2 linked regions of the Homo sapiens genome follow. The protein of the gene in region 1 purifies or fractionates together with the protein of each later gene. This does not show direct contact. Each region holds a gene or a part of one and is shown on either strand. Other genes may lie near its edges.

Evidence for each region.
Region 2: the proteins of PAXBP1 (region 1) and DHX15 purify together in Homo sapiens (co-immunoprecipitation; one study listed by IntAct). This does not show direct contact.

Annotation. Positions count from the first base shown.
Region 1 is NC_000021.9:32,733,537-32,737,365, forward strand, and holds the end of PAXBP1 (PAX3- and PAX7-binding protein 1), read right to left. Parts: coding exon 3,718-3,829; intron 1,532-3,717; coding exon 1,414-1,531; 3' UTR 363-1,413; downstream 1-362. UniProt on the Homo sapiens protein: Adapter protein linking the transcription factors PAX3 and PAX7 to the histone methylation machinery and involved in myogenesis.
Region 2 is NC_000004.12:24,574,425-24,578,253, reverse strand, and holds part of DHX15 (ATP-dependent RNA helicase DHX15), read left to right. Parts: intron 1-1,575; coding exon 1,576-2,011; intron 2,012-3,829.

The sequences.
Region 1 (3,829 bases):
ATGGCTTCATAAGGGACTTCCCCCTTCCCTCAGCACTCATTTCTCTCTGCAGCCACCCTGTGAAGACGTGCCTTTCGTCAAGATTGTAAGTTTCCTGAGGCCTTCCCACCCATGCGGAACTGTGAGTCAATTAAACCTCTTTATAAATTACCTAGTCTCAAGTATGTCCCTATAACAGCGTGAGAATGAACTAATACAAATATGTAGGGATAAGATAAAATTAACAGAGCAAATACAGTGCATGACACTGTTCTGCATATTATGTCCTGATCAAGGGTACACATGGGCCTGCTCACAGTCCCACTTTATTAGAGTCATTTGAAATGCTGCAAATTTAGTCGTCAGGAAAATACAACAAAGGATATATTTAAAAATTAATTTAATGCTTGGCTAAATCTTAATTACATATATAATTATCAAACGATAGTCCTTAATTTCCAAAAAAATTCCTCTTTTGAAAATCACAGAATCAGAAAGCATAAACTTTAAAACAAGTTCTCTGAATATTTACAATGTGGTATAAACATTATAGAAGACCATGGATATTAAATTGCCTGGGTGTGGCTAATCAGCAAGGCGTATTCTTTATTGCATATTTAACTCACATATGTGGGATTTTAAATATGACAGACTACTAAAATTCAAATGCATGTATCTGCAAGCTGGGCAGGGAGTAAAATCATGAATGAGACAGGACGGTCAGCCCAAAACCATGCAATTAGGTTGTGGGTTTATTATTTTCAAAAGTGAAATTTCTATGTTCCATTTGAAACTATGTTGCATATTCATTTAGCATTCACATTAAACCCACATTTGACTCTAACGCTGATTCAAGGAAGAAAGTTCAACATTCACTCAATGACTAAGTCCACAACTCAACTCTCAATGTTAAGGCAGCACAGCTACAGTGATAGCAACGCTAACCAAAAGGTAATGAACATTTAGTCACTTGCCAGCCCTTTTGTTACAACAGTGTAGTAATTTCCCTAAGACAATTTGCTACCGGATAATTTTCTGCTGTTAAAAGGCTTCCTCTGTGGAAAAACACCACAAATTTCCAGTGTGAAAGTAAGTCCATGGTGGTATAAATATATATATGCATAATTACACAATTTACACTGCACACATCGTTTACAGGGGACAATTAACTGAGAGGGTTAATTTAAATGACCATACAAAATACTTCAGTAAACAAAGTATGACAGGCAGTAAAGAAAACATTCATAGACTCCTAGAAATAATCTGAATTCCTTTCATTCTGAAGAAATATCATTTAAGGACACAGTATTGAATATAATGTTTTTTGTATTAAAACAAGAATTGCTATTTTACAGTTTAAGAAACTTTACATATATACAAAATTTACACATTGGGAATGGTAATCAAGCAAATAGGTTTTTCAGTCTCATAGATCTATTTTCCTTCGATCAAAGACTTAAATTCTTTCACATTGTGGTCACTTGCAACAGACATAGCATGATCCAAAGCTCGAACACTTGCAAGGAGTTTTACTATCTGTTTTATGTTTTCCCTAAAAGAAAAAAATATAGCAGCATCTCATTAATTAGTATATCTAAGAGAAAATTTGCTACTGATTTCATGGCTATTTTAGAGCTTCTGCAATCAATTTTTCCAAGCACACATTTTCAAAGAAAGGAAACAGATATGCAAGCTACAGCATGTTAAAAAAAAAAAAGTTTACATTTATCCATATAGAACAAAACTTACATATGTTTAAATGACTAGCCCAGAGACAGGGGACCCATTTTAAAAAAGCAAAACAAAATTCATTGAGATCAATGAGTTTCATTAATATTGAGAAAGAAAAGAAAGCAATCTGTTTTCAAACTACTTCAGAGGCCTGTCTCCCATTCCTTCCCAAACCAGAGTCCTGGCTGTTTTAGCGTATACCTGGAACACAAATCGTTATTTGTGTCTCTTCATCACCAATCTGTCAAGATCCAGCATAATTTCCACTCCACCAAAATTCACTAAATAAAGTATAATCTGACTTTCCTTATCACTCCAGCTAGAAGTCATTCTGCTTTCTTACTAGGAAGTAATCCTCAAATTTTAGCACACATTAGAATTACCTAGAGGATTGTTGAAATGCAGATCATCCCTGGCCCCACCCCAAGAGTTCTATTCAAGAGGCCCAGAGTGGGGCCCCGAGAACTTGCAAGTCTATCAGACTCCCATGCCATGCTGATACTGCTGGTCCAGGGACCACACTTTAAGAATGACTGTTTTAACATTTAGCTTAAACCACTCACGAGAAACAAGACATAATATGACATTAGTAATTGTCTCATCTCTTCTACAGAATTGTAGTAAGCACCTATTAGGGAAGAATTAGAATTTGCAAAACTTTCCAACCCACATGAAACCTGCTTTATGTGCACTGCACAAAGCAGGTGCTTACATAGCTGTTAAAGTTCTTTTCTGTAGAAAAGTAAACACTATTTGTTGATATTTAACTTCCAAACAGAAACACTGTTAAATATATGTAAATCAAAGTTTAAAATGTGATAAAATTTATCTAGTAGAAAACACAGAGAAAAAAATATTAGTGCCAACAAATAACAAAATGGCACACACTAAGAACAAAATCAAATCAGCCAAAACCTGCCAAAGAATTTTACCATTAAAATCTTTTTTGTTGTTGTTTTTTGAGACGGAGTGTTGGTCTTTCACCAGGCTGGAATGCAGTGGCGCAATCTCAGCTCACTGCAACCTCTGCCTCCCAGGTTCAAGCAATTCCCCTGCCTCAGCCTCCCGAGTAGGTGGGACTATAGGCACGCACCACCACACCCAGCTAATTTTTGTATTTTTAGTAGAAACAGGGTTTCACCATGTTGGCCAGGATGGTCTCCATCTCCTGACCTCATGATCCACCTGCCTCAGCCTCCCAAAGTACTGGGATTACAGGCATGAGCCACCATGCCTGGCCTAAAATCTTTAATAGCTACTTTAATTTTATTGTGGAAAAAATATCCAATTTTCTTGCAGGAAAATAGGTCCTTTTTCAAGAAAGGGGAATGAGGGATCAGAAGAAGGTTTTGTTATAGGGGTATGACTAATGGTGTGATCTAAACAAAAATTAGACTTTGACATTATGAAGATATATGAAATTAAAATTTTAAAAAGACAATTCCTTCAAACTGCCCTACTTAGTGTTATTATTTACTTTTTATGCTAGAGATTTATCCCAGAATTACCTGAACACCCATAAATTAATGTCCACAGAAAGGCTAATGGTTCACTCACTCTTTTCTTACAACCCTTGATAAAAATTAGAAATAAGTTGCCCCAAAAAGCCATGAGTGATAACCTCTAGTTCATAATATTGATTAAAACAAAAAATCTCCCCAAATTGGGAGATAAACTTGAATTTAAATCTGCATAATGAAACTCCAAACAAGAGAGTCTGAGACCTCTCTAATTCTTCAAAGAGGGAGACAGAGAAAACAACCGTTTACTCACTCCCCTGAGGGTTGGTCCTTACCAGAAGTCTTTCCTTAGTATCTTCATAAATAACATACTGAAAAAAAGTAAAAACTGCTAAAATGAAAAATTATGTGCATTTTTGGTAGGTTTATAATACTAAGTGAACATACAATTTAAACTAAAATATAAACATCTCTACTTAAAACATTTTAATACTAAATCTGGCAACTAAACAACTCTAGATTACCATTTCATTAATTACAAAATTACCTTGCATTTCTTTTTTCCACATCAGAACACCCGATACTATTTCTATAAATTGTATCCGCTAAGTGTACAAGGTATCGGCAAAAGTTTTCTAACTGAGAAATAGTCCTTTCTC
Region 2 (3,829 bases), on another chromosome or scaffold:
GATAGGTCCAGACTCTCAAGTATTGAATTGTGAGACTTCATTTTATGTTTATTAAGTTATCCTTTGACTTTTCTTTCCCATTGATTTTCTTTCTGTTTATGCCAGGTGAAATGAGAGGCTTCATACAGTTCTGGCTTGTATGCTCTGTGATTTTTGTAGAAGGTGAACATTGGGATGGAAGAGGGGAAAATCACTTTTCATGTTTATATATGCATATATATGGCTTTTCCCCTTTTTGAGTAAATTTGTACATGTCACACAACTGCACTTGGAGCACAGGGAATTTGTACTTTTGTGTATTGTGGGTAAGGAACAATGACATGTTTCGGGGCTTGTGTCATAGCTCCGTCATGTCTCATTATTTCAAGTCTGGGTTTAAAGATCTTGAGGCAAATTTCTCTGCTGATGGACTTGGTCTGAAGTAAACTGGATTAGTAAAATGAACAAGCATAGATTATTTTATTTTATTCCCACCACCAGTCTCCCAGAGGCTGCTTTCAGCCACAACGCATATGAACAACCTGCAGCCATTCTGCTTGTGAAGTTCTTAGCATAGATACTTTTAAAATGACTTATTAAGGTCAATCTCTAGTAACTGGAAGTAGATACCAGCATTGACTACTTAAAATTGACCCAGGTTTAATAGAGTGGCTACCTGCATAATTTTAACATGTTAAACAACTTAATAGTGTTTAGCAAAGCTTATTTTTAATTTGGCTATGTTTCATTTTATGGTAGACCAAGGTACATAGATTTATAGAGTGCTTTCAGTGTTTTGCTGTTGCTGTTTAGGTTAAAATGCAAGAGTAAACAAGCAAGAAGGAATAAAAGTTTTAATTTCAGTTTTTTTAATAAAGCAATATACATTTACTGAACAAAATTGGGAAAGTGCTGGAAAGTATAACTAAGAAAACAAATTCTGCAGTCCTGTAATTCGTATTTGTATTAGTTGAGATATTGACAGGTATAACATTGTACTATGCTCTTTTCACTTTGCATTACAACCGAACATCGTCCTATGGCAAAGAAAGGAATATTAAAGTAATTTATTAGAAGTGGATTATAAAAGTATTGAGCAAAACCCACCACTGTTGACTGTAATGATGTGAGGTGGAGTTGTCTTTATCTCCAGTAGCAGTGTTTGTGCTAACTTCTGAATATACTTTTAGTGCACAAAATACCTCTTCACAAATTGAAGGAGAATTTGAGAAAGATTGAGATGCCATCTTCTTTTACTCAATTTGGACCTATCCTTTCTTCATCCTACCCTCAGTATCTGATTTCTGTTGTCTAAGTAGGAGGGGTTTTACTTGCAGCAGACTGAGTTCTTGTGTTACCTCACCTAATGTTAAAAGTTAAGGAAGGTGGGGCATCAGCAAGGAAGGGAAAGATGTTTGTGGTGGAGAATGGGAAACCCTTGATTGTAGGGTATTTTTTATTATTTCTGATAGTTACATAATCCATTGGACTTTTTATTCATTTGAACGTTGGACATTTACTCTCTTTGTGATTATAACGCTACCGTGAACATTCTGCATAAAATTCAGAATCTGAATTCTAAATTTTTGTTTTTAGGAAGGATCGAGATCGAGACCGGGATCGTGAAGATCGGTCTAAAGATCGAGACCGAGAACGTGATAGAGGAGATAGAGAGCGAGAGAGGGAGAAAGAAAAGGAGAAGGAGTTGCGAGCTTCAACAAATGCTATGCTTATCAGTGCTGGATTACCACCTTTGAAAGCTTCCCATTCAGCTCACTCAACCCACTCAGCACATTCAACGCATTCAACACATTCTGCTCATTCAACGCATGCCGGACATGCAGGTCACACGTCACTTCCACAGTGCATTAATCCGTTCACCAACTTACCCCATACTCCTCGATACTATGATATTCTAAAGAAACGTCTTCAGCTCCCTGTTTGGGAATACAAGGATAGGTTTACAGATATTCTGGTTAGACATCAGTCCTTTGTACTGGTTGGTGAGACTGGGTCTGGTAAAACAACACAGGTGAGTTATTGTATACCATGGTACATATTTCATTTATGTTTAAGTTTACCAAATGTTGCATATTTGATTCTGGTGGTCATTTCCCTTGTCTGTCCTATAGAACATCTTGAAGAATAGCTGATTTGATGTTTAATTGGCACTCTGAATTTCAGAGTGGAAATCCTATAGAGAATACCTCTCCCCTGAATCTAGGGGAAAATAGTGGTGCTCGCTTTTCAAATTTTGTTACCTTATGTATGGCAGAGGTATTTTGACTCCCGGACAGTACAGATTTAGGGACCCACAGTTTGTTTTCTGGTACTTGGGTGGAGAAATCACTGGGGTAGATTTTTGTCGTTTGTATTTAATATGGTATTTTGAACCATGCAAAAAATGAAATGCCAAAGTAATATAAAGTCTATACCGGTGACTTTTGTCCATCTAGTCGTCCTCCCTCCCATAGAACTAAACACTGTTACTAGTGTGTTATTTGTAATATAGCTAGGATATTTTTTAAACATGGATGGGCTATTATTAACTAGACCCCTGTTGATAGACATTTAGACTGTTTCCCATGGTTGTTTTGCATGGGTCAAGTGTTTCTGTAGGAAGCAGAAATTGCTGGGTCAGAAGATCATTTGTAATTGTGATACAGAAAGCTGGATAGCCTTCCAGAGGGAGCGTATCAATTTACCTTTCCATGAGCATGTAGGAGAACACGTGGGAAACTATTAAAACGTGAATTTTTACAAATCCAATAGGTGAAAAATTGCATTCTAATGTACTTTTTAATTTGCATTTTCTTGCTGTGGGTGAGAAGTAACTGTCTTTATACACTTAAGCCTGAACCATCAATTAAAAATTTCTGGTTTCAAAAGTAGCAGTCCCTGATCATTGTAGAAACTTTGAAAAATTCAGGAAAGTATTGAAGTGAATTACCTGTCTTACCATGCAGAGATTGAACATACCGCATACACAATTTATCTTTTTCTAAAGTTACATGTGCATGGAGACATTTTGAAGGTACTGTAGCAACCAAAATAGGAAGCTTTTATTATAGACTGAGCCTTAGTACCATTCTTCTTTTCTTTTCTTTTTTTTTTTTTTAATTTTTGTGTTGTTGTTGAGACAGTCTTTCACCCATGCTGGAGTGCAGTGGTATGAACACAGCGTCAACCTCCTGAGCTGAAGCGATCCTCCTGCCTCAGCCTCCCAAGTAGCTGGGATCACAGGCATATGCCACCAGTGCCTGGCTAATTTTTAAATAAAATTTTTGTAGAGTTGAGGTTTTGAACTCCTGAGCTAAAGCAATCCTCCTGCCTTAGCCTTGCCAATTTTTCTTTTTTAATGAAGGAAAACTTAGAATTGATGTTAGGGTATTCAAAAATCACCTTACGGAAATTTTAAGAATTTTCAAACTACAAGAAAGACTGTAACTCTGAACTTACTATTTAATTGATATTTGGGTAAAGCCAGACACTGTATACTTTACATGTATTAGCTCATTTACGTTTTTCTATAACCCTGCAGGAAGATATTCATCACCACTTTACAGATGAGCAAAATGAGGTTTAAGTTTATGAGAAACTTAGGTTTAGTGGATTGTCCTGGGTTACATGGATTATGGATTTTGGTGGGCTCAATATTTAAAACTTTGTACCTTTTGTCTTTATATCTAAAGTTTTATATTTCATACTGCTATTCTGTGGTCTGATTATGGGTAGCCTCATTTCAGAGATGAGTTTATTAATGGTTAGTGTAGAAGGAGGTCAGGTCAACTCAAGATGAGGTTTGTGATTATTTGGATTAATATTTAACTTTTAGAGGGGTAATTAAGAT